Regions from separate parts of the Homo sapiens genome. Here region 1 is linked to region 2. The links come from fine-mapping of genetic effects on plasma protein levels. A gene starts in region 2. The other region holds a variant in brackets. All regions are shown on one strand. Distances are from middle to middle.

Region 1 (15,916 bases), 91 kb after region 2:
ACCCTTCTGCATGTCCACTCCTCCCAGTGAGGATATGTTTTCCCATGGCTTTGTCTTCTTGCCAACACCTGCTATAGATAAATATTTTAATTTTTATCCATGGGGTGGGCACCTCATGATGTCTCCATGTGATTTTTATGTTCTGCAGCATCCCCAAGCCAGCCTCCAAGGGCATGAGGCACACACACAACACGGAACAACCCTCTCCCTCATCTCGGAGTGCAGTCACAGAGCTAGGACAGCTTCGAGTCCAGCCCTGGGCACATCTGACCCCATGGCCCATGGTTTCTTCTCTGCCTCCACCTTCAATAATTTCAGGAGCCAACCAGGACGATTGATGCCAGACCACACGCAAACGTGGGCAAGGATGAAGCTGCCCTCCACGTATACCTGGTGGGCAAGCACCTCTGAATTCTCCACTCAGTGGCCAGGGCCTTTCATAAGTGGCTTGGATGAAGCAGGGCTGGAGGCTGCCATTCATTGTCCAAGCCTTCAACTGCCCGCAGGAACCGATCATGGCTGAGAGGATGGAGCTCTGCTAGGCGCAGGTACTGTCTTCAGCATTTCCATACACATGAGCTCATGTTTTTTTTTTTTTGAGATGAAGTCTTGCTCTTGTGCCCCAGGCTGGAGTGCAATGGTGCGATCTCGGCTCACTGCAACCTCCGCCTCCCGAGTTCAAGCGATTCTCCTGCCTCAGCCTCCCAAGTATCTGGGATTACAGGCTTCCGCCAACACACCCGGCTAATTTTTGTATTTTTAGTAGACATGGGGTTTCTCCATGTTGGCCAGGCTGGTCTTGAACTCCTGACCCCAGGTGATCCACCCTCCTTGGCCTCCCAAAGTGCTGGGATTACAGGCGTGAGCCACTGTGGCTGGCCCATATGAGTTTATTTAACCCTTACACACACTTCAAGGTACAGCAGTTTTCCCATTTGACAGCCAAACCATCAAGGCACAGAAAAGTTAAGAAAATTAGCCAAGATCACACAGCTAGCAGACGGTGGAGGTGAAGCTGTGTTTGGGGCATTCTGTGAAGGTGGTGTGTTTGGGGCATTCTGTGAAGGTGTGTTTGGGGCATTCTGGCCCCAGAGCCTGCACACAGAAGTCCCGTGCTGTGCCTCTCCATGCACCACGTGCTCAGGGCACCCAGAAACAGCTCCAACCTCCCCAGACCCAGGAGGACTCCTGCTGCCCAATTGCAAGACACTATAAAGCCACAGACCACATGATGGCGAAACGATACCCACAGATCAGTGAAACAGGAGGAAACCCAGAAATCAAGCCACACAAATACACCTGACTACTTAAAAAAAATGCATTGAAAAATTTAAAATGGGCTTCAATTTACGGAAAAATTGCAGACAGTACGGAGAGTGCCAGTGGACTCTGCGCTGTTTTCCTCATTTTTAACATCTTACTTTCCGATGGTGTGTTTGTTACAGCTGAGAGACCAACAATGGGATGTTATTAACTGAACCGGCCTTGGTGCTATTCACTTCAAGCTTTATTCTGAGCTCGCCAGTTTTCCGCAATGTCCTTTTCTGTCCCCAGAGAGCCTCCAGGACACCATGTCACCTTCGGTCACCATGTCTCCTTAGCTTCCTCTGAGCTGCAGCAGCGTCTCAGACTTTCCTTCTTTTTGATGAACTTGGCAGTTTGAAGGTGTTTCAGTCAAGTCTGTTGTGGAGTGTCTCCTAGCTGAGATGTGTCTGGTGTCTCTCTCTGGATTACACCGGGGCTACGGGTGTTGGGGAGCAAGACCGTGGAACGGAAGCGCCACTGCAGTCCCATCGTCTCAACATCACTTATCACCACGGAGTTGACCTTGATCACCTGGCAGGGACAGCACATGCCAGCTTCTCCACCACTGAGTTCTTTCCTTTTCCTTTCCATTCTGTCCTCTCCAGAAAGGAGTCACGAAGTGCAGCCCACACTCCAGGCTGGGTGGGGCAGGAGGCTTAACTACGTAAAGCAGAGCTCTTCTGTGCGGGGGGCCTGTCTCTCCTCCCCATTCGCTGACTGACTGAATAATTTATTACGTCACTGTGGAGTCACGGGTGTTTATTTTATAATAATTTGGGTTCTACCCCAATACCTCATTATCCATATCTTGCTCAAATTGTTCCAGCTTTGGCCACTGGGAGCTCCTTCAGGTTGGCCCTGTGACGTGCCCCATCCTTTTGCTTTGAGTTTGTTTGAGTTTATTTATTTACTTATTTTTGGTGGGGGGCAGTTTGGGTTTTTTTGACAGAATCTCACTCTGTCATCCAAGCTGGAGTGCAGTGGCACGATCTCAGCTCACTGCAACCTCCACTTCCTGGGTTCAAGTGATTCTCAAGCCTCAGTCTCCCGAGTAGCTGGGATTACAGGCACGTGCCACCACATCTGGCTAATTTTTGTATTTTTAGTAGAGATGGGGTTTTGCCATGTTGGCCAGGCTGGTCTCGAACTCCTGACCTCAAGAGATCTGCCCGCCTCCTCCTCCCAAAGTGCTGGGATTACAGGCATGAGCCACCATGCCCGGCCTTGAGCCCGTCTTTACTTTCTGGCACTACACAGTGCTCCCATCTCGTGTGTCTACTCCCTCCCCAAGGAGCTCTGTTCCCTTTGATTGGAGGATAGAGTCAGAACCCGAGATCTGGGCTCTGGAGTGTTTGCCGCGGAGGCACCCTTGCTTCAGTCTCGCTCAGCAGATGGGGTTAGGAAGTTTGTGTACAGCCCACGTATCCATGCAGAGCTAGATCTCTTTCCATACCCGCCCACCTCTAGCTACAGGACGCTGATGGGTGTTCACAGTGACGTCCCCAGTGCCTGTGGTTGATTCCAGCCTCGCATCCTTGCTCATTCAAAACCTCCCTCGCCAAGAACGAGGAGCCCAGCTGCCGTTTCATCCCTGTACACACGCACGGCAGCTTCAGGATCGGTAACCTGCCCTCCCGTGAGCAATATCTGCGCTGAGTGCAGTGTTGAAGCACGGTTGCCTTTTCCTGTAGTCATACAGATTCTCATCAGAATTGTGTTTCCCAAAGTTGCTTAGGTGAGTGCATCTGCCATGCTTACTGGGCCAGAGGAGTCACACCCCGGGGACCATGCAAAGCAGCTTTCACCTTCCCTGCATGCTCTTGCAATTCCCACAGAGGATTCGTCAACCATCACCCTCACCCCACAAAGCAGCAACCTGTTCCCAGGAAGAAATGAACACAGGAAAGACAGAAAACATGCCAGGGACCTGATTGCATATGGCGGCTGAGCACTCCCAGTGTGACGGCCTAGAAGCAACCTGGCTATGGGATGAGAAAAGGAGGAAGCGTCCACCCTCTGACACACCTACTGTTTCCACACCGAGGCCCCTGCTGTCTCCAGCGCACATCTGCGAGCCAGTGTCTATCCCACAAAGCCAGCTGCCAGGGTCCCGGCCTCTTCATCATGGTGCGTGCGGCCACGGCCCAGCCTGCTCGCTTCCTGCTGCATTAGAACATCTCCTCACTGGGGATTCCAGGGCCCTGAGCATTCTTGAGCAAATCTGTTTCCTTGCAGAGCGCATATCTCAGGCAGACACAGAATGTATAGAAAGAGCCAGGCCATCTGGGCTGCAGTCCACAGGCACAGGGCTGATGTTGCAGTGTTGGACACGCTGTTGACTCCACACCCAGCTGAGCTGGAAGGCTTTCCCTTGCATCTCCCAGCCACCGCTGACGAGAGGTCCCTGACGAGAGGTCCCTGCCCAAGTCCAGCCCAAGGCACCCCTGAGGGTTTGGCAGGAGTGGGGCACAGAGCCCACTGGTAGGGAGAAGCGGCTGTGGGCTCAGGCAGCCCTGGCTTTGAATCTGCGGTGCCCCTCACTCGCCATGGAAACTGGAGAGGTGGAAGCTGCCCCTGTGGGTCTCCATCTGCTCATCTGGGAGAAGCAGCCATAAAAGCTACCTGATTTGGTGTTTTCAGGGGTTGTTTGTTTGAGATGGAGTCTTGCTCTGTCACCCAGGCTGGAGTGCAGTGGTGCGATCTCCACGTACAGCAACCTTCGCCTCCCAGGTTCAAGCGATTCTCCTGTGGCAGCCTCCTGAGTAACTGGGATTATAGGCGCCCACCACCACACCCAGCTGATTTTTATATTTTTAGTAGAGGTGGGGTTTCACCATGTTGGCCAGGGCGGTCTCGAAATCCTGACCTCAGGTGAGCTGCCCGCCTCGACCTCCCAAAGTGCTGGGATTACAGGCGTGAGCCACCATGCCCTGCCGTGCCTGATCTATTGAATGGACTCAGAGAGGCAGTGAGAGGTGAGAGCTCAGTAGACAGTGCCTGCAGCAAGGCGGTTCTGTGGGTCCCCGAGACATGCTGAAGCCTCCACCCCAGGCCCTGTACCAGGTACCTGACAGGATGAGGTCACCTACCATTTCCGATGGGTGGGCAGGGCCCCCATAGAGCTCAGACACTGCTGGGCTTGCTCCTGGGCTCCCCCCCGCCCCCGACACAGGGCTGGCATGCAGTGGGTGCTCCAGGAAGCCCCCAATCAGCCACAGTCCAATGACCAACTCCTGACCTTTCCCTGTGAGCCCAGACTCCTTTCAGGGAGGAGCATGTCCCAGAGACAGTCCTGCAGGTGGCAGGCGGGTTCGGAGAGAACCCTGCCCTTTACTTTTTGGAATTAGGGCCTCCCAATCGGAGCCAACATCCTGGGACCCTCGACAAGTCCCTACCCTCCTGTGGGTCTCCCATTCCCATGGGGAAACACATGGGTCAGCTTTCCCCTGCAGCCCCAGCTGGCTCTAAGAGCCTTCCTTCCAGAACATGGTAAGTAATTTATCAAAGGTTCTCAAAATGCCCTGCCCCCTCTGCCCAGCTCTGTGGCTCAGAGAAAATTCCTGTGCTCTTTCCATGACTTCCTGCAATGCCTTCCCACATGTTTCCATATCACTGGGTCCTGTTCCCTCAGCCGTCCCTGCAGCTGTGCGGTTTTAACAACTGCTGGCCTAGAAGGCAGCATCCACTGAGACAGTGACCACTGAGGAACACGATAGACTCAGAAATGGGGAAACAGCCGCCCAGAGACGGCAAGCGAGCTGCCCAAGGTCACACAGCGTAGGATGGGTGCTGGGATGCTATGATGCCCTCCACCCACCTCGCTATCCTCAGGGGCCTCCCTGAGATCTCCCAGGCTTCCTGTGCCCAGAGTATCCACGAACCCAGGACCTGGCACAGCCACCAGCCACTCTGCATGGCTGGACCCATCATCTGTGGACCACTGAGCCTTTGGGCTTATCTGGATGATTCTAGCCCCACCCTGGCTGGGCTCAGACTGTCTCCAGGGCCTTGGGGAGAGCGGCTGGCCCAGCATGTGGATGAGCTCAGCCTCCCGCGTCTGGTCCCCAGATGCCCCAGTGAGACCTCCTCTGCCTTCTCAGGCGATCTTCCTCTGATCCCCACCCAGCACGCTTGTCCTCAGGAGACAGAGGTCAGCTCGTGCTTGGCCCGCAGAGCCCAGGCCATGGAGGGCCCAGCCAGGACAGCCAGCGGAGGTTGCCTTGCAAGCCTGGGGGTGGAGCCTCCATGGCTGGCTGCAGAGCCGAGCAGGGAGGAGGCCAATGCTGTGAGTGCAGGGAGGGGCTGGTGATGCCTGCCATGGCATAGATGGGGGCAAGGCTCACTGTGTGGACCACGATGGAGGTGCCCTTGAGTCGCTGTGGCACTTGTCCACCTTAGGGCTTGTTTGCTGGTCTGGATGGGTAGGAGAGCAAGGGGGGCCCTGTCAGTCCAGGGCTCCGCCTGGGCAGCGCTCTACACAGACAGTGCCCAAGGCAGGTGCGGCGTCCACAACAGCGGCGCTTCCTCAGTCCTGCAGAACTGGACACCTCAGCACCCGAGCTGCTGTCACCCAAACCGTCTCACCTGAGCCTCCCAGCAGGTGACGAGCGCAGAGCAGGGGGAGTCAGTCCATCTCTCGGATGAGGCACTGACCCCCAGGGCAAGGTCACAGTCAAGGCAGTCTGGAACCCAAATCTCTCTCAAGCCCAAGTGACAGGCCCCTGCGGAGCCACCTCCCACCAACCCCAGCGGGCTGTGCCGCTCATAGCTCCTCTACGTCCTGGCAGCCTAGAGATCCTGACACCCTAGACGCCCGCCTCCCAGCATTGTCCATCTCTGGCTTTCTGTTTGCTGGGCCTCCGGAGTGCCCTCCATCCACAGGGCATCGGCCCACCTGGGTCCCCTGAAGTGCCTTCCTGTCTCCCCACCTTCCCAGCCCCCACACCCCCCTGCTCACTCCGCCAGGCCTGCAGGACTCCCAGGCTCTGTGTCTCCCTCAGACCCACCCAGGCCCCCCGAGGGCTGACAGCCCCCATCCCCTGCTGGGAAATGAATTCCCCCTCCCCAGCCTTCCTCTTCCTCCCCTTCTCTTTGCCCGGAAAGGCATTCGGCAAGAAAGTGAAAGGAGAGGCTTTCTCTTCTTATTAACCTGGAGTTGTGTTGCGGGCGGCGCCAGAAACTGCAAAACCATCGCTGTCCTCACATGTTTCTCTGGAGACCGAGGGAACCAGAGCCCTCCAGAGCCGCACAGGAAACCCCATTGGGGATTGGACGGCACCCCTGATGAGCTGCTATTCCCCAGGGAGCACTGAGGGGCTGGAGAACCTGGGGAGGCAGGAAGAAGATCACTCTGACTTTGCTGGGAGTGGCGTCTTCACCGTCACAGCCTGGCATCAAGGGGAGCACTTGTCAAAAGTCTGAGAGCATGGGGGTGGGCTCTGCCCGGCTTCCTGCCCGGACCTCCCAGGAAGCGGGGAGCCCAGGAGGAGGGGATGGAAAGTGCAGAATGCCGGCCTCGGGCCCCTGCTCTCCTCTCCCCAGCCTGCCTGTCCCAACAAGGAGGGCTGGTCCACACTCGCACTGGGCCAGCCGGGCCGCGCCAGGCCTGGCACATGCTGGGCACTCAAGAAGTGCCTGCTGCATGAAGGTTGGGTGAGCGCCATCTCCGAGCAATGCTGTGCCTACAGGCCACTCAGGGTGACTCTCTGGACACAGCCCACCCTGACTTCTGCCCCAAATCAAACTGCAGCTGCTGGTACTGCCGACAGCAGGGAAGCCCCTTGGGACCCAGGAGGAGGCCTGGTGGGGATCTGACGCGGCTGAGGCCCAGGCTGAGCTGGAGCCCCGGGTCAGCCCCAGGCACTGCATCACGGGCCACAGCTGGTTGGGGCTCTTCTCTCCACTACCCTGACCCAGCCTCTGGCCCGCCCCTTCCACTGCCCAAAAGGGAAAAGCCACAGTCTGGCTCTGCAGAGGGGAAAGTGCACTTGGTCAGGAGTGTCAGCAAAACCAAAGTCTAAAATGCTGAGCCCCCTGAGCTCAGAACTTAGTGTTCAAAGGCTCACCAAGTCCTGAGGTGTGGCCAGCAGTACGGAGCCAGCTGCAGGGACCCCACCCGAGGCAAAGGCCCAGCCCTGTCCTGGGGAGCTACAAGCCAGGGCAAGCATGGCTGAGGGACATGGGCACAGGTGGTCCCAATTCTCACCTTAGCAGGTGCTGGCCCTGGGGCACCAAAGGACTTCTGGGGGAGATGGTGCCCAGGGTGTGGCTGGCGGTTGATCTGGGGTTACTGGTCCTGTTTTCAGGTCACTGTAGTGGGGTTACATGGAAGCCCCCGGTCACACTCACCTAGAACCCCCATTCTGTTCCTGGGGGACCTGCACATCTGCAGAGGGCTTTCCATGCCTGCCCCACCCAGCTGGCACCCAGGGAGGTGGAAGAAGACAAGGCAGCCTCCCTCCAGTCCCTCAGACTCCGCCGGACCCCAGTGTCAGCAGAGCTGGTCACTGAGTAGTAGTAGTACTAGTACTACATGGGTACAAGGGAGACCCAAAGCCAGGACAGGGACCCCAGGCCACCCCCGACCCCACATCCGCTTGTTCAGCTGGACTGGCCAGGTTCTCCCTTCTCCTTGCCATTTCAATCATCTCAGGGCAATTTCCTTTCTCGTCTGAACTCTGATTCCTCCCCAGATGGCTTCCTCCCTCGTTCCCCCTCTAGCGGGTCTGGGCCAAGCCCCGTGGCTAAGGAACATCACAGGCCGTCGCTAGGAAGGGCACCGCGGCGGGTCGGCCGGAAGGCTCTGGCGGCAGCGCGCGTGCTTGGAAAGGGAAGTCCTCCTGCAGAAAGGCGCGGGCTGGGGCTTGGGGCCTGTCCCACCGAACCAGGCTCAGTGGCCACAACTATGCCATGAGCACATTTTTAGACTGTGAGTCAACTGCTAATAGAGTGATTTTTATAATCACCCCAGAAGGAAGGCTGATTTATAGCTCTTCT[C/T]GATGGAGCAGAGTCAGCAGGAGGTGGGTCTGAAATAGACTTGGGGTGGGGGGTGGGGGAAGGATCCCTCCTAGACCAGCCACTGGCCGGCGTGAAACAAGGCAGAGAAGGCTGCACAAACCTCTCGGCCCCTTGTCCACGGGGAGTCTGGGCTCCCTGAGATGAAGAGCAAGACCAAGTTTGCTGTCCTATCAATCAGGACACTGAATTAGATCCCCTAGGGCTGGCTTATATTACTGTCACTTCAGCATTTAGTTACAAGGGAAAATAAATCAATCGCAGAAATCATTGTCTGTGCTTCTATCCTATGCCAAGCCGTATGGATTTTGGGAGATGAAGAAGACCAACCTTTTGTGCAGGAAGGGGGCCACATGCAGGAAAAAGAAAGTTCCAGATGTAAACACATAATGGTCTGTGGGTCTCATCTGAGCCTGTTGAGCTTGAACTCAGTGGAGAGTTGTCCCGTCAGACCAGCCTGTTTGTGTGTCGACGGCTGCGAGGGATGCGCGCACGCCTGGACCGTTCAACCAGCGGCTGACGCGGCGGAGGCTCTGCAGCCTTTGCCCTCTGCCCCCTCCAGGTGGAAGGCCGGCTCCCTCACCTGCGGAGGATGCCAGGTCATGGCAGGGCTTCTGCAGGGCGGCTCCCAGGACCACTGGGGTCTCTACTTGGGAAAAGGGGCCATGGGCAGGGAGCCAAGACCCGAAAACTCAGCGACTCAGCCTTTTGCTTCTCCAGGACGGGGTCCTCCAGCACAGAGGACCCCTTCGATTCCACCCTCACACGCAGTTGACAACCAGCTCTGCCCCGCAGCTGCGGCCCTGGGGAACAGAGCGGCCCCAGCTCTAAACTGAAGGTGGGTGTGACGTCTCCCACACGGAGGATGTAAAGCGGGACAGGTGTGAAGAGGCGGAGAGATGCAGGTGCTGAAGCACCATCCAGTCCAAGGACAGCAAAGAGCCAGTGTCCACCTGGCCCCCTTCCCTCCTGTTCTCACAACACACGTTGCTGGTCAGCCCTCCCTCCTGTCAATTTTGGGCTGCTCCTCAGAGTCCTTCTCAACACAGCCCTCTGGGCCACCACGTGGAATTGGTGAGGATCATTTATGAAACAAGTTCTCCGTTTCTCTACATTATAAATAAAACTGAAACTCAGAGGGGCAAGGACCTGCCTGAGACCACTCAGAGTTGGAGCAAAGCAGACACGTGGCCGCAGTTGTCCAGAACACCCAGGAGAGGGGGCCGAAGGAGGTGTCCGGGGAGGCGGGAACACCTGAATGACACAGTGCCAGATGGGACAGGGGCTGCAGGGGCATCACTAAGGACACATGTGCTTGTTGAGTGAGTGAAGGATAAACATGAAGTCAACAAGACGTGGGGTGGGAGGTGGCACAGGAGCTGAGAAGGTGGAGTGGAAAAACAAACAGAGATGACAATCGACGGCCTGCAATGAAGGTTATTGTCATTAGGAAGCAAGTCTTTTATGATGGTGGGAAAAGAATATGCATTGGCTCGGCACTTGAAATGAATATTCCCATTTTATAACCAGCAAGACCCAAAGAAAGGGGATTGGTCGGAAACACCATAGAGCTGTTCCTCCGGGAGGCCCCCAGGGAAAGCAAGAGGGTCCCAGGCACAGCCACCACTGCCAGGGATGACCTTCAGAGAGAGGCCTCAGCCGCCACCACCCAGCCTCCACCACCCAGCCTTCTCCACCCAGCCTTCTCCACCCAGCCTCCACCACCCAGCCTCCACCACCCAGCCTCCACCACCCAGCCTTCTCCACCCAGCCTCCACCACCCAGCCTTCTCCACCCAGCCTCCACCACCCAGCCTCCACCACCCAGCCGCCACCACCCAGCCGCCACCACCCAGCCGCCACCACCCACCACCCAGCCTCCACCACCCAGCCGCCACCACCCAGCCTCCACCACCCAGCCTTCTCCACCCAGCCTTCTCCACCCAGCCTCCACCACCCAGCCTCCACCACCCAGCCTCCTCCACCCAGCCTCCACCACCCAGCCTTCTCCACCCAGCCTCCACCACCCAGCCTTCGCCACCCAGCCTCCACCACCCAGCCTTCTCCACCCAGCCTCCACCACCCAGCCTTCTCCACCCAGCATCCACCACCCAGCCTCCACCACCCAGCCTTCTCCACCCAGCCTCCACCACCCAGCCTGCAGCTGAAAACAAAACAGGTTGTGCCCTTCAGCAAGGGTGAGAGAGCCCAGTGAAAATGTCACTTTCCCTCAGATGGCTGCCTCGGTGGCTCTGTCTTACTGACTGTGTGTGCCGCATGTTTCTTTTATTTCAGCTGATGTGGGGTAACGGGGCCCTGCCTTCTCCCACAAACCCCCTGCCAGGACTCTGGAGGCAAACTGTCCCCAAAAGAAATGGTATGAGGCACCCTCAGCTCCTCCAGTGACCCATGGCCTGCTCCCTCCACAACATCCCCACCCCCAGCCTCAGGCTGGCACAGAGGGACAACCACGGCTGCGTAGACTCCCAGACGGATGCTCACGATGTTAGGGGCGGCCTGGCCCTGTGCCCACCTGAGGGTTCCCGGAATTCCAGCTGCCTGAGAAAGTCGGTGAGAGCCCAAGAAGGTGTTCTGGCACCCTGGATCTCCCGGATCTCCCGCTTCCCGAGGGGCCCGGAGAGAACAGACTTATGGAAGCATGGATTCTACGGATAGCCAGAGTCAGAGATGGTCTGGGTGCCAGCCACAGAAGGTACTGAAGCCAGAAGGGAAACACAACTGTCCACATACGGTAGTCAGTGCGGTTAAGAAGGAGGATTCCTGAGTCGGACATACCTGGGCTCAAACGGCTCTGCCACATCCTAAGTGCGTGGCCTTGGGGAGGGGCCTAACCTGACTCACCTGAGCCTCCTCATCGGTGGAGATGACACCTATGAGACGGGATAGCAGTGAGGTTGAAACACAGTAACACACGTGTTTAATCACACACATGCATATACACACACGCAGGCACACACACAAGCATGCGCACACTGCTTGGCACAGAAAGTGAGATATACTCAGTGCTGGGCTAGTACATGTTTAACAATCTTAGCTCTCTGGGGTAAACAAAATCCTAGAAAACAGACCCACTTTGTAGCACGCGCCGAGTCGACTTCCCCGGGGCAGATACTCCAAACCCTGGCTCTGCGCGCGATGTCCCTGAGCGGGCCTGGGAGGAGGTGAGAGTTACCCGCACGCCACCGGCTGCGCTGGTCCCAGCACAGGGCTGCTCCACCCAGAAGCTGCTGGCCTGACGGGTGACAGAGGGGCCTTTTGACCAGGCTGCAAGACTCTGACTTGGAGACAGGCCGCTGGAGGGTGAGTGCTATGGTTTGAACGTGTGCGTCCCCCCAGCATTTACATGTTGGAGCCTAAGGCCCAATGTGATAGTATTAAAGGGTGGGGCCCTTCAGAGGCGATTGAGTTATAAGGGCTGCAGCCCCATGAATGGGATCAGTGTCCTTATAAAAGGGCTCAAGGGACCTAGCTAGACCCCTTTTTGCCTTCCTGCCTTCCACCATGTGAGGACATAGTACGTGTCCCCTCCGGAGGATGCAGCATTCAAGGCACTGTCTTGGAGTGAGAGACCAGGCCCTCCCCAGACACCGAACCTTCCTTCGCCTCCTTGATCTTGAACTTCCCAGCCTCCAGTACTGTCAGCAATAATGTCTGCTGCCCCCAGATGACCCAGCCTGAGACGTTTTGTTGCAGTAGCAGACATAGACTGCCAGCGAGGATGGGGCCCCTCTCCAGAACGGCAGACACCCGTCCCTGACCATCTAATGGCCTTGTGCACCCAGAGGGTAGAATACACCAGTCTAAGAGCCAAGGGAAGGGAGAGGGGAGGTCCCACTCACCACACCCCTGTGATTGGGTGAGGGAGCTCATCTTCCTGTCTTCATAACGTCGGGCCCAGTGAGCCCAGGAGTCCAGTTTCTCCTAAGGCATTGCTGTCCCCAGAGACACAGGAAGAGTCCCCTCCAGTTTCCCTTGACTGCCTCTTGCTCACTGTGGGCTCCTCACGCCAACAGACCAGCAGCGTAAGAAGGAGATGGTCACTGAAGCGGGAAATTGGCCTCTTAGCCGGAGTCACTGGGCCTGCTCCTCGTGGGGGGGTGGGGTGCTGCTGCCACACAACAGGGGAGGGAAGAACACAGTTTCAACTCTGCGCACACCCCTAAGCATGTGTGAGGGTGACAGGACAGATGCAAGAGCTGGTTGGAGAAGGGCCTGGTGACCGGGGCACTGACCTGAGGGGCAAGGGTGGGGGTCACCCAGCTTAAGGCCAGACCAGCAGAGGCAACAGGCGGGGGTGAAGGGAATTGAGAATGGGTGGCTGAGGGGAGAAATGACGAGGCTGGCTGCAACCGGGCGAGGGTGGAGGGTGCCGTGGTTTATCCCATAACCCTTCTGTTACCTTTCCCCAGAAAAACAGATCAGCCGAAGCTCTCGCAGAGTAACTGAGTGTTCGAGGAAGTGAGGAGGCTGCAGCAAATGTTCTCGTGTGCCCAAGATGCCACCCTCAAGACCAAGGCTGTCACTCCAGGCGGGCCTGGAGCTGCCGGCGGATCACAGCAGAGTCTCTGCCAGCTGCCCTGCACCCAAGGGAGCTGCACTGTGTGAGGTCACGCCCGCTCCCAGGCCCAGCCACATCTCAGGACAAACCGCATGGGAGTCGGTCCGGAGGCTCAGCCCGCTTACCTCAACGCAGGACAACTCCAAAGGGAATCCCAGCTCCAGAGCCGTCCACAGGACGGGCTGACGCCCGAGTTCACGACCGCGTCACCACTCAACTCCTCCCTCCGCCCTGTGCTGCACCCCTCACGCCCTTTTAGGTGTTGGTCCCAAAAGCGTTTCCCCAAAACCACCCATACATAATTCTCTATTTCCAAGGACTCCAGAGAGCCCGTCTTAAGACACTTTGGTTGCAAGACCCCAAACCAACATGAATGGTGCCCCTAGCCAGGTGTAATGGGAGAGAAGGCCCGTGGTGGAGGCCTCGGCTCTGTCTGTCATAACTGGAAGAAGAGGGTGGTGGCTGCCAGGTGCTTTGCCAGGTCCCGCTTACCACCCTGGGGCATTGGAGGAGTCACCCGTTGCTGCCCATCTCAGCAGACAGGGGCAGGTGTCCCCGGAGCATCGCCCCTCAGGGCAGGGCTGTGAGTTTTCACTCCACGGAGGCTCAGGCCATTCCCAGCAAGAGGAGGCCATGTCCGCGTGGCACATTCTAACATATGGTGAGTGTGATTGTAATCAGTTGTCCAAAACCCATGGGGATTGACTGTTCATCGACTCCCTTTCAGGGGCTGTTGGAAGAATTAACTGCACGTCAACTAGCCGCGGAAAAAGGCTGAACTGCTTCTCAGCATGTGTGTGGAATTCTTGACTGGGATTTTCAATATGGTTCAGAGCCAAACTTTTCTTTCTTTCGGAAAACATCTGAGAGTCTGCTGAAAGCCAGTGAGAAAGTAATCCCATGTACACATTCTCGGCAAGCCTCAGGCTGAAACGGCTCTCACATGTGGACTCGAGCCTGCCTGGATACAGACGGGTTGGAGACGGATCTGCTCAAAGGCGGCTCAGCAGGAGTGAGAAACCAGTCCTTCCTGAGCTTTCTGCAGCCCCCCGGGAGCCCACTGAGGAGGCTCAGAGGCTGCTCTGGGACAGGGAGCAGCCAAGGTGGGACGCAGGGCAGTGGGCAGGCTTCCCCGGGCAGCAACGCCAGCACCCCTGCTTCCAGCATCCCCATCTCAGTCCCCTTCACATGCAGGACTTCCCCCAAGTGATTAATGTGACAAAGGGGCCCTGTGGCTAAGGAAACACCAAGGCACAGGACGGTCACGTAAACGACAGCCACGCTTCGGCAAGGTCCCCACTGGAAATACGGAAGCGAGACAGCGCGTCTGCAGCCACGTGTCCGTCGGGTACCGAGCCACCCAGTTCCATGCTGGGACCACATGGATGGGGAGGGGACACCGTGGCCACCCCCTAGGCATTGCTCAGTCATTCTTGTACAGCGTACAATCGCCCGTTTATAGGAAGAATGCTGACCATATATTCTGGTTTTCCATGCGCAATACTTCACTAGGAAAGAATGCAGAACTCACCAGAAGGAGCACACGCTGCAGTTTTCCCCATCAACCAAACCTCTTCCCAGGGATTGGGAAATAGGATGGCGGGGCTCTCCTGCCCTTCCGGCGCCTGGAGAAGGCACAGGTGGCCCCAGCAGGGTCCTAGACAGACAAGGGTCCCAGAGATCAAACCATAGGGTCTTCCTGCCTGAGACAGGGACATTTGACAAGGCAGCTGTGAGTTTGGAACCTGTAACCAGGGCACGGCGCCTCGGCACTCCACTCACCCTGCAGAATGAAATCTCAACCCAGGATGGACGGTGGAGGGAGTGCTGCCTCTCACCGGCGAGGGCACAGCCTCACCCAGCCACAGGGCTCCCTGTGTGACACAGGCTGAGCTCTGGGTCTCGGGAGAAGGCACACACACGCTTGCAACGTGAGGTTTCCTTGCAACACAAAGTTCAGATTTAGGAGGGGAAAGATGAGTTTCAGATGCTAAAACTAGTCTTTGGGGACTTTTCAAGGATAAGAGATGGCCTGCTTCTGGGCCGGCCTTTGGGAAAGGTTTTCATTCTCAATTTCCACCCTGACCGATGCTGCGTCGTGTTGTTGATATGTGAAACGTGGTCTGTGATGTCCTGAGGCCTGGAAATCCAGATGTTCCCCAGTTCAGACTTCACAACTCAGGAAAGTGAATCTTAGTGAAATACACATTGGAGCTTTTAAGAACTGTTTTTAAGGAGACATGTAAGAAAACGTGACTCAGTGAATGATCACAAAGTTTGCATGCAGGTGACAGACACCCAGGAGAAGAGGCACAATAGGACCGTCTCCCTGGAGGCCCTCTGTGCCCCTCTCACCCTCATTCCTTCTCCCTTCCCCAGAGTGGCCGCCGCCTGCCTGCTCACACTGCCTCCGTCACCGGGATCGCGCCGTGGGTGAATCTGGTGTCCGGCTCCTTTTGCTCCATGTGGGCAGGCTCCCCTCTGTTGCTGGGCCTGGCTCTTCATTCACTCCCATTGCTTATGAGCACATGGATGCTTTTTAAAAGGAGAAAAGAAAATTAGCCTGTTGTTGTTTGAAGGCAACAATCCTGCCCTGTCCAGCTGAGAACATCTGCTAGGAGAGCTTGGGCTGTGCCGTGCGGGGAACCGTGGGAAGCAGGGTAGGTGGGTGTCTGTCAGGGGAGGGGAACCAGGGATTAGGTCAGACAAGAGGCGGAACAGGGAGACAGGCAGGACCAACACCATCTCGGGGGCTTGGCCAGACCGGCCACTCATCTCTGCCAAGTCAGATGCCTCCAAGGAGCCGAACCCTAGAGAAAGCTGCAGGGCCGGGAGCCTCTGGGACGGGAGGACCCCACCTCCAGGGCAGCCCACTCTGGGGTGGGACAATGGCCTCCTTTGCTGCCCCATGGACGATGAATGGCACCCATGTATGACTCATGCCGCTGGTATTTTCTGGCTGATTCCAGTGAGCCGAAGGAAGGAACCTTAGTTACTAAAGGCTGCTCTCACTGCAAGC
Region 2 (15,916 bases):
TGGGCCTCTGTCCTCCAGAAGAAAGACGAAACTACAGCTGGAAAAGCTGAGACCACCGTGCTCTCTGGTGTACATTTTTATTTTTATTTTCATTTTTTTTTAGACAGGGTCTCACTCTGTCACCCAGGCTACAGTGCAGTGGCACAAACACAGCTCACTGCAGCCTCAGCCTCCCTGGCTCAAGTGATCCTCCCACCTCAGCCTCTCAAGTAGCTGGGACCACAAGCACGAACCACCACACCTGGCTAATTGTTTCTGAAATTTCTGTAGAGGTGGTGCCCAGTAATGGTATTGTTGGGTCAAATGGTGTTTCTGGTTCTAGATCCTGGAGGAATCGCCACACTGTTTTTATGTCATTTTATGGCATTTATTTAAAAAATAAAGAGGCCACCAGATGGTGCCCAGGCTTGATGTGCATTTTTATGCATCTGAAAGGAAGAAGAAGAAACCGAGGCAGAGGCTTCAGGTACGCACTGTTGCCTGGGGCCATGGCTCCCCTTCTGAAGCACTGGGACCCAGCTGCCATGGAGGCTGGCGCCAGCAAACAAACAGGAGGGAGCGGAGCCACGCCGCCCTCACCTGGCCTTGAGAATGGACAGAGGCTGCTTGCGTCCATGCATGTGACTGTACGGACCTGCACCAACATGCAGGCCGTGTGACCACTGGGACGTGGAGGGTGGTTTTCATCCCCTTGTGCCAGCTGGACTCAAGGAGCTAGACTGGCACATCTGCAGAATGGGCCGATCCCACCTGGCACGAAGGGCGGGTTTGAGGATCACAGGTGCTGACGGGAGCACCCTCAGAGCAGGGTCCAGTGTAAATATGAAAATATGAACAAGAGCCAGAGGAAGAACATGCACGGGAACGTGCCCTCTGCATCCACCAATGGGAGCCTGCCTTCAGGCGCATGCATCCCAAAGGGCTGGCCCTGGAGAAGCAGGCTGGTCTCTGACTGGCCACCGCCCCATGGGGCTGGCAGGTGCCTCCCTAGACTGGCCTTGGCCACACCCTACTCCCACTTCTACTGCACCTCACTGGGTAAAACCACCTGTTCAGATGGCTGACTCCCCCGCCGCAGCGGAAGACCCAGTAGGGCACAGACGGCTCGCCTATCGCTCACCTGTGCCCCCCGCACAGGTCCGTCTCATGTTAGGGGTCCATAAATGCTGCCAAGCAAACCTGCTGACACACCCAATGTCTTTGCATATGGACCCCATCTGTTCCCTCTGTACCCACACACGGGAAAGAGTGCTGGTCCCCCAGGCCACCCGCCAGCAGAATGGAAGACGGTCGCTTCCAATGGAAGACGGTTACGATGCTCATGTGTTCTCACTGGGAGATCACTGTTTCCCAATGCAAGGGTCAGAGTTTTTCAACTTAAGTCACTCCTGCTACATACACACATTTAAAAAAATTTTTTTTATTATACTTTAAGTTCTGGGATACATGTACAGAACGCACAGGTTTGTTACACAGGTATACACATGCCATGGTGGTTTGCTGCACCCATTAACCTGTCATCTACATTAGGTATTTCTCCTAATGCTCTCCCTCCCCTAGCCCCCCACCCCCCAACAGGCCCTGGTGCATGATGTTCCCCTCCCTGTGTCCGTGTGTTCTCATTGTTCAACTCCCACTTATGAGTGAGAACATGTGGTGTTTGTGGTTTTCTGTTCTTGTGTTAGTTTGCTGAGAATGATGATTTCCAGCTTCATCCATGTCCCTGCAAAGGACATGAACTATCCTTTTTTTATGGCTGCATAGTATTCCATGATGTATATGTGCCATATTTTCTTTATCCAATCTATCATTGATGGGCATTTGGGTTGGTTGCAAGTCTTTGCTATTGTGAACAGTGCCGCAATAAACATACGTGTGCATTTCTCTTTATAGTAGGATGATTTATAATCCTTTGGGTATATACCCAGTAATGGGATCACCAGGTCAAATGGTATTTCTGGTTCTAGATCCTTGAGGAATCACCACACTGTTTTTATGTCATTTTGTGGCATTTATTTACAGAAAAAAAAGAGGCCACCAGAAACCCTATTGCCGAGGTCCTGGCAAGGAAGAAAAGGACAGAAGAGCTAATTTCCCTACAAGAACACGGGTCTAGGAAACAGAAAATAAAGGAAGCTTCCATTTCATGGGCAGAGACATCTCGGCAAATAGGCTGAGCCCATGTCCCCAGAGCTCTGAGTAATTAAATTTTGAGAAAAGTGGGTCAGGCTGTGGTTCCATTTCTTAGGTCTGAGTCATCAAAGGATGGTGACATTTACTGCTAATATGAGGTTATTACCTAGTTTGAGATTCCTCCAGAAAAACTCCTCTGCTGATAGGAAGCTGAGGGTGTGACGGCTCGGACTATCTGACATGGATAACTCAAAGTGACCCGCACCCCTCCACTGAGCATCCAGCCACCAATTCATTCATTCCACGGTCTTCTCTCCAGTGGCCTGGGGCTGGGCTGGCACAAAAACAACATCTGAGATGGCAAAGCCCCCCCCACACCCCGCCCGCACCAACTTCACCCACCCCTGCCTGGAACACCTCCTTTCAGTGATCAGCCACCACTCACCGCCATCACATCACAGAGACAGAACAGAGGCCTGCAGCTGGGAGGTGCACAGGTCCATCCACCTCCTGGACCTCCGTTCCTTGTAAAGAGCAAGTGGCCAGAGGAGGCAGGGGAGGGCCACTCTGCGGGCTGAACTTGGCCTGGCCCGCGACTGCCCAAGGATGCACCTTCCTGGCTCAGGCTCAGAGCCTCAGAGGCAGCGAGCAGCGAGCGATCCGCTGAACTGACCACTGGTGCTTACTGCCTTACCTTTTCTCCTGCGTACCCAGTGAGGGAAGCAGCAGTGTGACACCACACAGGATGGCAAGGGAGCACGCACAGGCCAGCGAGTAGAGGGCCCCAAACCACCTCACAGCCTCCTGCTGCACTGGGGCCCCTGGTGGCAAGGGCAGTAATGGGGTCTTACTCTGTGCTTTATATGAGTAATACATTAGACATCACTAAAACCCTACTGTAGTTACAGTCACCACCCCCTTCTTACAGATGGGGAAAGTGAGGCACAGGGTGGGAAAATGCACTGCTGGTAGACACTGGAGCCAGGATAGGAATCCAGGAGTCTTGCCGGCTGCCTGTCCTTTGCCAGCAGGCCACCCTGGTCCCTATGCCATGTCCTGGTGGCTGCAGTCCTGCAGTCCTGCCTATGAGCAGAGCTGTATTAGTCAGGGTTCCCTTAGAGGGACAGAACTAATAGGAATAGAAATAATAGAAATATATATATATATATTATATATATATATATAGGAGTTTATTAAGTACTGACTTACACAATCACAAGGTCCCACCACAATAGGCTGTCTGCAAGCTGAGCAGCAAGGAGAGCAAGTCCGAGTCCCAAACCTGAAGAACTTGGAGTCCGATGTTCGAGGGCAGGAAGCGTCCAGCACAGGAGAAAGATGTAGGCTGGGAGGCTGGGCCAGTCTCGTCTCTTCATGTTTTTCTGCCTGCTCTACACCTGCTAGCGGCTGATTAGATTGTGCCCTCCCGATTAACGGTGGGTCTGCCTTCCCCAGCCCACTGATTCAAATGTTAATCTCCTTTGGCAACACTCTCATAGACACACGCAGGATTAATACTTGTATCCTTCAATCCAATCAAATTGACACTCAGTAGTAACCACCACAAGGGCCGCTGTGGGCTCCGCCTGCAGGATCGAGGCACATCCACCAGCCAGGCCAGAAACTTTAAAACCGACACTTGGCAAAGCACTGAGAGAGAGCAGACGAGTCAATTATATGGGAGAATGTAAATAGAGGAGAAGCGGGAGCCATAATGTAACATCGCCCTCCCGGGAGTTTAAAAAGACATGAAATTGTCGGATCCAGCTGGACCCGGCTTGCCCTGCGGCAGAACCCACAGCCTCACGCTCAACCGGCAGGTTCCACGTGCCATCTCCTCCTCTCCCGTCCAGCTGGGGCCGGGTCACGGTAAGGAGAGAAACGTCGCCCTGCCACGAGCTCCTCAAACACACCAGGCCCTGCACGTGGAGTCAGCCAGGGACACCCATGTGAACGCAGGTACATGTGCAAGGATGCGCATGCGTGCACACTCAAACACACATGTATACCCACAAACACATGTGTGCAGGCAGATCGCGGGGAGATATACACATTGTCCACACGTGCACACGGCCTGACACACACACACACACACGCACACATGACACACATACACACAAACGCACACATGAGTGCAAACCCTGGAATTGGCTTCTAAAGCTTTTCACATGCATCACACCCCACGGCCTGGACAATGACCCCATGAGGTTCCGTGGGAAAGCAAAGAACCGAGGCCAAGGAAGGCAAAGGGGCAGCAGAGACCGGCTAAGCGGGCAACAGCAGAGCCCCAGGGGTCTCAGCAGGGCCAGGCCCCACACAGGCACACCTCCCTCGCCTGTGCTTCTGGGAGCTAAAGAGGGCTGTGGGAACACTGCTCTTTCCTCCTGCAAAACCACCACTGAAGATGGGGGCGATGGTAACGTCCCCACACAGCCAGTGCCGAGTACAGGTCAGGCAGCCTGCAAAGCTTCTCACAGGTGTGGCCTCAATCGATCTTCACAACCATGCCTCAAAGCAAGAAATGTGGTTCTCCCCATGTTCACGAGGGGAAGCTGAGGTGCAGTGACTTGTCCTCGCCCAGCCCATCCGACAGCCCCTCAGAGGCAGGGAAACTCAGCTCCAGCCTCACACCGACCTTGCTGGCCTGGAGTTCAGTAATCTGATTGCCAAGGAATGTCCCCTCCCACATCCGACCACCTGTCACCCAGCACAGGTACCCAAAATCACCCCCAGAGGCCCCCACATCCTAATCCACAGCTGTGGAGCTGTCTGCAGAGCTGTGCAGACTGGGCTCACTGTGCCAGGCCAGCAGGGCTCGTCAAAGGGAAACAGGAGGAACGGGGGCAGAGAAAGGGTTAAGGAAGCTGCCAGGATCTGCCACTTCCCTTAGGGGCACTTGTATTCTCCTGGCAAACAGATACTGGGAGCACCTGCCAAGCCCGTGAATGAGGGGCTTTCCAGCCAAGGGAGCCGCCCAGGAGAGCTCTGGGACACGGTGTGGAATGTCCTGTCAGAAGGAGGGAAGAGAGCAAGATTAAAGCCAGAGGTGGAGGAGGACCCCACGAAGGAGGGTCATTTCTGCAATAAAAGGAAGGAGAAGAGAAGGAGGGAAGGCCAGTTTCACATCACCTCCTCCAGGAAGCTCCCCAGCTCTCCCCAGTGCAATTAACCCTCCCAGACTGTCGGATGCAAGACCCAGCACATCCCATGGAGGGCCCTGAGTAAAATTCACAATGGTCTGCCTGTCAGACTGTGAGCTCCTGGAAGGAAACGAGGGGTCCCATCCCATTTGCCTCGGTCTCCCCAAGATAGGCCCGACCCAGGTGAAAAGGCAAAAGCCTTCAGGGTCCAGGCAGGTTATGCTGATGTGCAGAGAGGCCTGGGAAGTGGTGGAGACTGTGGCTGCTGCATCCCTCTTGAAGGCACTGGAGTAAAAAGAGAAGGGATGGAGGGACAAAGGGAAGGAAGGAAGGGGATGGGAGAGAGGGAGGGAGGAAGAGAGGGAGGAAAGAAGGAAGGAGGGAAGGATGGAGGGGGAAGGAGAAAGAAAGGAACTTAAAAGCTGTGTTGGCCAAATGGAATGGCTCTGCTCCCAGGACCCTGTTTGGACTGGGCCCCCAGGCCAGGACTATAGCTCAGGGCCCTGGCCTTCTCCCCGGGGAGAGCTGATAAACCGATGGGAAGTGAGAAGAGGGAACTGTGACAAGTCAAAGAGTGACCATGCCAGGCGAAGGGCCGTTGCTGGCTTAGGGCCCCACAGCAGGAATGGAAGACATCTGCCTGGCATCCCTGCCCCCTGACTCCTAGGCTCTGTCCCTTCTCAGGCCCGGGTGAGGGTGCAGTGAGATGGTGCAGCTGATGCTCACCACAGGCCAGGCAAGTGCCAGCCCCTCCATTCCCATGTGTGATTGTCTCCCAAGGCCATTCCCAGAGCCACGTCACGTGACCGAGCAGGGACAGGTCCTGCACTGTTCCAGATGCAGCTTGGCTCAGGCTCCTATGTGGGTGCCCTCGGGAAGTGTTGGGGACTCATCCTCGCCCTCCAGCGGGGCAGCTCACTGCTCTGCACAGCCCCTACTCCACCTATCAAGGTCTATCTCCCAGGAGGTGGGATGGGGCGGTCCAGGGAGGAGGCAGGGCAGGCAGACAGGCCAGGCAGCGAGAAGGCAGGGCGGGACGGGCAGCACCAGCTGTGTTCGGCTGAGGCGTGGCGGTGGGGAGTCCAGAAATATCTGCAGGGCGGGGTGAAGAGCAGGCTCTGGCCAGCCCCGCAGGAGCAGCCCAGGAGTAACATCACTGGAGAAACCACTGTGAGCCTGGCACTGGGAGCACGCCCCTGCCTGGGGCTGCCGCACTGCTGGGTGGGCACAGCCCTGGGTAGCAACCAAAACTCCAACCCCTCCGGCAAATCTGGACCACAGCAGGGAGAGGGCTTGGGGAATTCTTGGGGCTTCTGAGCTCCTCCCACTCACTGCTCTTTTATGGGGAGAGGGAGGGAGGGGGCAGAGGATGGAAAAGGATGTCTTTCCAGCCAACTTGATTGAGTCAGAGGAAATTTAACCATTTGATACCTGTCAAGTCTCACAAAACTTGGCCGACTCTCCCCACAAATTATTGCAAAAAGCAATCACGTGACTGGAGTCAACCAATGGCGTGTAGAGGAGATGACCTCAATTTCCAAATATTGGGGTCATGTTTCATTTCCCATACTCTCCTTCCCCGTTACACTGTTCAGCAGCCCCAAATGCAATCTTACTTTTCATTCCTTCACACACTTGGCCAAAAGAAAGCAGGCAAAAGAACTGTGTTCAGAAAACCCTCAGAAAACATCTGGCAGATCCGAAGATGGAGAAGACAGCAGGCACTTGCTGGTGGCTCCCCCCCGCGCCTGCCTCTCCAGTGGACAGCCGCCCCCTCCCCGCCACGCCTGCATTTCCAGTGGACAGCCGCCCCCTCCCCCCAGCGCCTGCATCTCCAGTGGACAGCCGCCCCCTCCCCGCCACGCCTGCATCTCCAGTGGACAGCCGCCCCCTCCCCCCAGCGCCTGCATCTCCAGTGGACAGCCGCCCCCTCCCCCCAGCGCCTGCATCTCCAGTGGACAGCCGCCCCCTCCCCCCAGCGCCTGCATCTCCAGTGGACAGCCGCCCCCTTCCCCCAGTGCCTGCATCTCCAGTGGACAGCCGCCCCCTCCCCCCAGCGCCTGCATCTCCAGTGGACAGCCGCCCCCTCCCCGCCACGCCTGCATCTCCAGTGGACAGCCGCCCCCTCCCCCCAGCGCCTGCATCTCCAGTGGACAGCCGCCCCCTCTGGCCATGCTCGAAGGATGACTTCCAAATAGGTCCCACCCTGGGAGGTGGAGAGACGTTGGCAAAACTCACTAAGAAAAGTGGTCTCTCCACATGCTTCTAAAAGTCTGTTCTGACAAAAGCAAAATGTCCAACTCCATAGCCTGCTGCTCTGGGCCATCCTCACTCCCACTTCCAACGAGCCGCACTTCGATTAGCGAGGGCAACCAGAGAGGGAAAAAGACAGTGTGGAGGTGGGGAGATGGGCAGGGAGGGAAATGGAACCCCAAGCCCAGTCCGGTGCATGGTCCCCAGGCAGTGCCCTGCCCCAGCTGTCTAGGGTGACGATTCCCCTGAAGGACTCCCTCCTGAGTTTCTGGGGAAAAGTCCCCAGAGGCGCTGAGACAGGGCCTAGTCCCCCGGCAATGGCACAGTCCCTGACCACACCTTCCTTCTCCTCTCCACTTTTCTGGGGACCTCTGTTGTCCCCCACCTTCAGCTAACCCCTGGAGAAACACAAGCCCAGTTAGCCCAGGGTCAGGAGAGAGTTGGTGGCGGCCCAGGGATGAGATCCCAGGTCCTGGGAGCCAGGCCAGGCTCCTGGCTCCTCCCCCAGAGCCCCAGGGCAGCCCCCACACCCAGACTCCAGCTCATCCAGTTAGCCCAACAAGCACTGATCGTGCCAGGGAAAAAGGAAAAGAGTGTTTTAATTGACAAGCGGAACACGGACAATGATTCTTCCCACTTGTCTTCCAATCGTGAAGCAGAGAGAAGCATTCTTGCTGGCAGGCGGCGGGCTGGTCCAGACGTTCGCTGAGCCCACCGTCCCATCGCTCTGCCCGCCACTTCTCCTGACCTGGCAGCACACAGCTCTGAGCCTCCATCTCCCCGCCTGTCAATAAGGATTCGGGGGACCTTCCAGGGCTGGGGGCTCTGATGTTCGAGAGTCTGTGAAAACCCACCCCGCCACTAACTACCAAGAGCGATGCCTAGAAAAACTCCCCCGTCAGGAAGCTGCGCCAGGGAGAGTTGAACCCTCGAGAACCCAGGCAGGGACGCAGACAGTCCCCGCCTTGAAGCGCCCTCCCCGGGAAGCAAGCCTCCTTCTAAGGGCTGACCCTTGGCAGAAGGAATCCCACATCTGCATATCATCCCAACCACTCACAGCCCCGCCTGCAAGCCCATCTCTGGCTTTGCTCCACGCATCCCATCTCTCAGCAGCGAATCCAGGAAAAGCTGCCTTCCAGGGATCAAGAAGTTTGGGGGTGGGATTAGGAGCAGGGCTGTCTACCACCCTGCAGGGGTCCCCAGTGCCCCCGAACACTTAGGTGACCAAGGCTGCAGGAAACGCTGTCCCTGGGGAAAGCAGGGCGCCAGCTCAGCCTAGAGTGACAGTGCCTGGGGGAAGTTCAGTGCTGGGGGCCCAGGCTTCTGGGATTCCCCCCATCCCCAGGAGTCCCGGGATTTGAAGGGCTGTAACTCTAGGGGGCGGCCCTGCCCGGTTTGGAGCAGAGGAAGTTCTGCTGTAGGGCTGTGAGGGCCCAAGCTGGGCGCCTGTGATGTGGGACAGAGAAGGAAGGTTTTTGGGACAAAAGTTTGCCCGCCTCGTGGACAACCCCTCCTGCTGATCCAGCCCTCGGTCCTTCCTCGGCTCGCGCGACAGCCCCACCCGACCCGCCCGTCTGGGGAGGGGGCGGCGGCGCGCCCGCGGGCATTGTGTCTGCGTGTCGTCATCTCGGGGGGGCCCCCAGCAAATGGCATTCGTGGTCTTGGCCCGTGCATTCCACAGGCCAAGGAAGAAAAGTTCTGCGGGCGAAGGCGCCCGGGGATGACAGCGGCGCCCGGGCTGCGCGCGCCCCATCCCGCAGCCCCGCGCCCCGGGGCGCCCTTACCTGCGCGGCTCGGAGGCGGCGCCCACAGCAGCAGCAGCAGCAGCGGGGGCAGCAGCGGGGCGCCCGGGCGGAGCGCGCTGCGCGCTTTCCAGCGGGTATGGACGTCCATGCCGGCGGGGCGCGGGCCGGGGCGCACAGGGGCGCTCGGAGGCGCGCGGGGACGCACAGGGGCGCGGGTCACGGCCCGGGCAGCGCACTCAGCAGGGACCGCACCACTTTAGGAGGTCATGGGGACCTCGGCACCCCCCGTTCTTCTTTGTGGCGGCGGCTGTTCTGGAAGGGGCGGCTGGCGCGCTCGCCCACGGGCGGGAGGGCTCGACTTTGGCCCGCGGGGCGGCCGGGACCCCGCTGGGCTAGCTCGCCCTCGCCTCCTCCTCCTCCTCCTCCAACTCCTTCTCGCCTCCTCCTCGCCGCCGCCGCCCCGCGACCCGCTCCCCGTGGGCGCTCCGCTCGAGTGAGGTCCTGCGCCAGCCGCGGGGACGGAGAGTGCGGACCTCGCCTTCGGCGCGGAGCACTTTTTTCCCCCTTTTCCTCCCTCCCTCTCTCCTGGAAGGCAGCCGCGGAGGCTGTCGATCCCCAACGCCCGCAGCAAATCAGAGCCCGGCGCTGGGCTCGGCGAGGCCAGCCCCCGCCTCCCACTGGGCGCCGCGGGCGAGGGGGTGGGGACAGCGGGCGAGTCGCAGCGAGGAAGGGGCTGGCCCGGGGCGGAGCGGACGTGGGGCGGGCGCGGCCCCCTGTTCTTTCTCTGAGAGCCGGTAGGCGGGCGGGCCTGGGGCGGCCTCGGAGCCCAGGGGCCCACCCTGGTCCCCCCACTGTTCCCACCCCAGGTGCCCGCACCTGGCCATGCTCCAAGAACCAGTGCAGAGGGGCCCCGAGGTTTGATCACTTCGGGTTAAAAAGAAAGTTGCAGTTTACCCCGCCTAACTTTTTCTTTAACGTGGAGGAGTTCAGAGCTCCTCTTCTGGGTGGAGACTAAACTTCCCATCCAGCCAGATCAGGGCGCCCAAGACTGTGGCCTACGTGTCAACCCGGACCGAGGACCTGCCTCCTAACTGCAGATTGGCACGGGACCGAGCTGGGGTCTGACTTCCCAAGAGCTCCCGGGACCTCCATGTGCTTGGACGGGAACATCTGGGTTATTAATCAGGCGAAGTTTGGCTCTGCGGCCCCCAGGCTCTCACCCCTCACTCCTGCCCACTCCCTGGTGGCCCCTCTGCAATAAAAAGGAAACCAAAGAAGGCATCCCCTTGGGAGTGACAGCTGGCGCAGGGAGAAGGCATTCCTGATCGGCTGCTCTCGGAGAAGAGCTGGGGCCCTGATTCTCCTGCCTGGCTTCTTTAAGCCCCTCGGGGTCTCCTCCAGCAGGAGGCCCGCCAGTCTCTGGGTGGTAGGTGGGCGTCTCTCCCTCCAGCTTCCCCAGGCCTGGCCTCCCTGCACAGCCTCCTGAAGCCTGACCCACACCCCTTCCCCAAGGGCTGCAGGGCTAGTTTTTTAAAAGGAGGGAATCAGAATGAATTAAGAACGATTTGCAAACCCTGGGCCATCCCCATTCCCTTTGAACAAACAATTTAGCCAGAGATGCCAGACAGGGCTGGGACTCCCCTCTCCAGTTACATCTCCAGACTGGGCGTGAAATTCCCCAAATGCTCTTTAATTCTCACCATTCTGGAAACAGGAGGTGAGAGAGGCGTCCGAGGTTAGGTTTGCCAGGATAGCCATGGCAGGCTCCGGAGCTGGGTGATAGGTCGCTGTTGCTAACTTGGTGATGAGGCTTTTAGTCTCCATATCTGCCACATGCGCTTGCATAGATATCAAATATTTCGCAGGAAAAGAATGAGAAGCTCTTCACACACAGACGTGGGGAGGTGCTTGAGATACATTCAGTAAAGCAAATGTTAGTTCTGACCTGTTTCCTTGTTGATTTTATTTTGTTTTACAACTTGTATAAGGCATATGTGATCAGGCAAAAATGTGTGTGAGTTGTGTGCATGTGTGTGTTTGTGTGTGTGCCTGTGTGCGTGTCTGTGCGTTGGTTAACCTGCAGCCACTGGCCCTTTACTTTCCCTGTGGACTTCAATGAGTGAGAAATTCCATCAAACCCCAGACTCCGCGCCAGCCCCAGCTGTGCTTGGTCCTTGGAGTGCCCCCGCCCCTACCAGCAAGGCCAGCTTCACCCCTGAAGACTAGGGGTGCTGACACAGGCCATGGCCTGGTTATCAGAAGAGAGTGGAGGCTTTCTGGTTCCAGCTTCTTTTTCCCCAAGCACAAGTGGAGTTCCTTTCTGACAGTCCCATGTGCACATCCGTGCCAGTCAGCAAGCCCTCCTGTAACTCACAGCCAGCATCTAAACTTTGCCCTGAATTAACACAACTGGCGCCTTAAGAGCTGACACTCAAGTGACCACCCCAAGGTCCCCCAAAAGTTGACTTCTCAGCAATGGTAAGATGGCTCAGTCTTGCAGCTCAAGCAGCCATGACAGATGCACTTTATCCTCTCTTGGAGAGCAAGTGGTGCGGTGGCTTGGAAAGCTGTCAAATGTGAGTTTCCACCCTCATCTGAGCCTTGAGTTGGGTGGAGAGATGAGTTTCTATCCCACCAGGAAACTCAGAGAGAAGTCCCCAAACTTGGCGGCCTGATGTGTCAGCCAGGGACTATGGCAGAATGGCCCGGCAGTACCAATCAGGATTCGAACTGTGTTGCCAAGCTAAGAATATCAGCCACATCTTAAGGCTTTTGCCTCACACTCTTCACCCACACGTGCATCAGTTCTCATGCACCGGTAGGGAATACTGGCATCTCTCCCATCCACAGATGAGGAAATCAGGGGCCACAGAGGGTAGGGGACTTACCCAGTTCATCCGTGACAGGGTCCGGATTTGGACCCAGGTCTCCATGCTTGGAGCCCAGTGTGCACTGCCTGCCTCCCCATGGCATCCGGACCACACGCCTGCCGCCAGGACCACCCTGCCCAGATTCAGACAACAGCAACTGGTGCAGATTGTCCCAAACTCACCATGTTCCATGCCCTCCCACAACTGAGCAAAACCAGAGTCCTTGGAAAACTGCTTATTGCGCGCATACTCCTTGCCAACACCGCTCTAGGCTTTAGGGAGTATGTGGTGAGCAAGGTGCCTGGGTCCCTTCCACATTGACCTGCAATGCAGCAGTGACTCCCACGCCCATGCAGAGGTGGCCCCTTTTTTGCATGTGTGTCTTCCTTGTCTTCTGCTATCCATCGTTTCCCATCTAGCCCTCCCCGGCTGCCTGCTCCTGTTCATGGCACTCACCGCAGAAGGCTAACCAGGTCCTGTACCCTGTGTACTCCTGGGCCACCGGGAGCGCCACCACCCATCACTGCGTGTTTCCCACAGTGCCTAGCAGAGAGTGGAGCAGGCCAGGTGCCCTGCACCTTACACGTGGAGTCCGATGGCCCAACTTCTCCTTCCAAGGCTGTGTTTCCTCTCATTTATTTTTCGAGCGGCAGAGCTGTGGTCCGGACAGAGCGGCCATGGCAACCATCAGGTGTTGCTCTCATGTGGACCTGATGGTTCACCACCAGTCCTGAGGGGTCACACCAGCCTCCCAGAGTCACGTCTGGCTGGAAAATGGCCAGCTGCTTCCCAAGACAAAGGCCTTGAGGGGCAGCCAGATTGTCCCTTCTTCTTCTCCTAGACCCATGGAGGAGGTGGAGGAACAAGGTCTTCTTGGAGTGCCTGGAGGCAGATATCTGCTTGCCCTCTAAGCATTTATGGTCCAGAGACTGCTGAAGTGGGCCCAGGAGGGCCTGGGTGAGCCACGGCCTGGCAGAGGGGCTGGAAGCTGCCCCACTCTGTCCCATGCAGGGGAGGAGTTCCCTCTAGCTGCGCAAGGAGAATGCTCTGAACCTGCATCCGGCACCTGGGGCTGCAGCTGTGTCCTTCAGCTGATGTCCTGGGACCAGGCCAACTCCAGAGTCACACAGACTTCCGTTAGAATCCCAGCAGCACCAGCCACTAGCCACATGACCTTGGGCAAGAGGATTCTGTCTCTGAGCCTCAGTTTGTTATCTGTGAATGGGCGGTGAAGAAACTGACCGCTGGGGGGTCCCTGTGAAGCTCAGATGAGAAGGTAGGTGAGGGAGGCCTGGCCACAGTCCCCTCCCTCCCTGCTCCCTGCCGCTGGGCACTCATCCTCTTCTGCCTCCTCCAAGCCCCCTGCCGCCTTCCAGGGCTTCACCTGCTTACCTGCATCATCTCATTCAATGGAGCAACAACCCTTTGAGGCAGGAGGAAGCTGAGGCTCGGAGAGGTGAAACTATTTGCTGGAGGCTGAACAGCAAGGGTGTGGCTAAACCCAGTAGCCCGGAACGCAGCCCTTAACCACCGTGCAGCCTGCACACCAGCAGCAGAGCAAACCAAGGAGGCGCCGGGTCCGAGGGCCGGCCCGCGGCTGACCGCATGTCCTGCCGGTTCCAGGGGCCCAGACCCCCACTGGCCCTAGTTTACCTTCTGACCCATTGGCCTTGACCACTGCTCCATGTGAGCTGTGGCTTCTCAGCAGACCAGAGGCCACCGCTGTGCCCACAGAGCCAGCAGGACTCTCCCTACGTACTGGAGCGGGGCAGATGGGAGGGAGCCCCTTTCAAGCCAGCACTCTCTTTGAAAAATTACTTGGGGAAGGCCGCCACTTTAAAGCCCTTGGACAAAGCATGTCCTTCATTGCCTTGTTTTTGCAGCCTTCTTCAGCCTGTGTCTGCCAAGTGGAGAGTAGAGGAGAGGGTGAGAGAGGGGCCGGGGCCATGCCCCAGGTCACCAGGCTTCCCGGGTGTGTGAGTCAGCTCGGCGGCCACAGCAGAGTGCCACAGATGGGGCAGCTTAGACAGCAGGGATTTATTCCCTCACAGTCCTGGATGCTGGAAGTCCGAGGTTGAGGTGACGGCAGCACTGGTTTCAGCCAAGGCCTCCCTCCTCGGCCTGCAGTCGGCACCATCCCCCCATGCCCTCACACGGTCATTTCTCTGTGTGTGTCTGCGTCCTCATCTCCTCTTCTTTCGGGAACCCCAGTCAGTTGGATGAGAGCCCACCCTAATGATCCCACTTAAACTTAATTATCTTGTTAAAAGCCCCATCTCCAATCACAGCCACATTCTGAGAGGCAAAGCTTCAATGTACGAATTTTAGGGGGACACAATTCATCCCCCTAAAACTGGATTCCTGCAAAACAGTCCCAGTCCGTGGGCCTTTAGCAGAAATCTGAGGATTGAGGGGCTCTGTTTTCTGGCACAGTAGAGACTTTTACCCACCTAGGTGCTCTCTTATTGTGGATTCTCACACCCCAAGGCGGGGGCAGGGGTGAGGGGTGCAGACTCTGGCCAGTGGCAGGGGACCCTGGCCAGTGGGAGGGGACTCTGGCCAGTGAGAGGGGACCCTGGCCAGTGAGAGGGGACTCTGGCCAGTGGGAGGGAATTCTGGCCAGTGGGAGGGGACTCTGGCCAGTGAGAGGGGACCCTGGCCAGTGGGAGGGGACTCTGGCCAGTGAGAGGGGACCCTGGCCAGTGAGAGGGGACCCTGGCTTCTGATGAATGTGTACCACCCTGTCTCCTTGTCCCTCTAGCACATAGGCTGAACCTCTCCTCGGTGGCACTGTCCACCATGGGTGTGAGAGTGGGGCCAGCTGGAGGGCCCAGAACACCAGTGCAGATGCAGCATCTCCTCCAAAAGGCTCCAAGCCCACTCCAGAGTCTCCTCTCTTTGCTTCCCTCCCCACAGCAAATTGCCCTCCCCTTTCTGTGAGTGAGGTGCCCCTGCCCATGCTGCCTGTTAGGAGCACATTCTGTTCTGGATATGAAGGTGTGCATGTGAATAAGTCAGTCTTTGGGACAGATGTGTCTGGGAGCAGGTGTGCATGGGAGCAGTGGTGCACAGGGGCAGGTGTGTATTGGAGCAGGTGTGCATGGGGCAGGTGTGCACTGGAGCAGGTGGGCACAGAAGCAGGTGTGGCTTGGGGCACACAGTCAAGCATGGTAGGTGGGGGCACAGGCCTTGGGACACTGTGTAGTCACATCTGTGTATACCTCTGCTTCCGGAGAAGCAGCCGTGGGTCTGACCCCAGTCTCCCCAGTCCAAGCCTGCAGCCTGTGCTCCATCTAGATGTGGGTGAGAGGGGGTGGGAGGGGGTGAGAGAGGGTGAGAGGGGGTAGGAGTGGGTGGGAGGGGGTGAGAGGGGGTGAGAGGAGTGAGCTGGGAAGAACCCAGGCAGGCTGTGGTCCAGTGAACTCCAGGCCCCATGATTCCATTGAAAATGCAATCCGCTGACTCAGTGGTTTACTTGAAGCCCTTCCCCCGCACCTGAACTTCTACCACTTTGTGAAGCTGAAGCCTCTTCCTCTTCCCCAACCCTCAGCCTTCCCCAACCCAGAGTCCAGCAGAGGAGCTGTTCTCCTCCCAGAGCTCCCATCCCGGGACACCACGGTGCCAGGACCCCCAGCCCAATTTATCAAGCCACACAAGCAGGACCAGACACAGCTGGCCCTGGCATCTGATCAAACATATACACGCAGCTGGAGGTTGGAGGCGCTTTTCATCATGGCGGCTTCTCAAGCATGGCGGCTCATGCTCTTTATCATGG

Direction of the effects. Alleles are on the strand shown, and positions count from the first base shown. The strength of an association depends on the size of the effect and on how common the allele is.
In carriers of allele T in region 1, the plasma level of the protein whose gene starts at base 9,804 in region 2 tends to be lower than with C alone (weak association).

What was found. A credible set is the group of variants that fine-mapping cannot tell apart. PIP is the chance, under the fine-mapping model, that this variant and not a neighbour inherited with it causes the effect. The UK Biobank Pharma Proteomics Project read protein levels with antibody pairs (Olink). The fine-mapping took linkage between variants from a reference panel, not from the people measured, so its PIPs are less certain.
Region 1: its variant is the best candidate, but not a certain one, in a credible set for the plasma level of the COL5A1 protein (UK Biobank, PIP 0.65).

What each region holds. Positions count from the first base shown.
Region 1 is chr9:134,544,436-134,560,351 of GRCh38, reverse strand. It overlaps LOC100506532 (a long non-coding RNA gene), which reads right to left. Exons shown (of 3, transcript NR_188441.1): 3 at 15,089-15,432. Among named protein-coding and RNA genes, the nearest start is that of COL5A1, 89 kb to the left of the region's middle. RefSeq lists enhancers at 4,935-5,537, 6,401-6,921, 6,922-7,443, 14,332-15,097. The variant C/T (reference allele first, on the strand shown) is at 8,302.
Region 2 is chr9:134,635,691-134,651,606 of GRCh38, reverse strand. COL5A1 (collagen type V alpha 1 chain) reads right to left here and starts at 9,804. Exons shown (of 66, transcript NM_000093.5): 1 at 9,311-9,804. The coding sequence starts at 9,419. COL5A1-AS1 (COL5A1 antisense RNA 1) reads left to right here. Exons shown (of 2, transcript NR_138049.1): 2 at 2,023-2,222. It overlaps LOC124902300 (a long non-coding RNA gene), which reads right to left and starts at 3,553. Exons shown (of 2, transcript XR_007061842.1): 1 at 3,343-3,553; 2 at 1,401-3,216. RefSeq lists enhancers at 2,273-2,772, 3,497-4,296, 6,279-6,863, 8,119-8,825.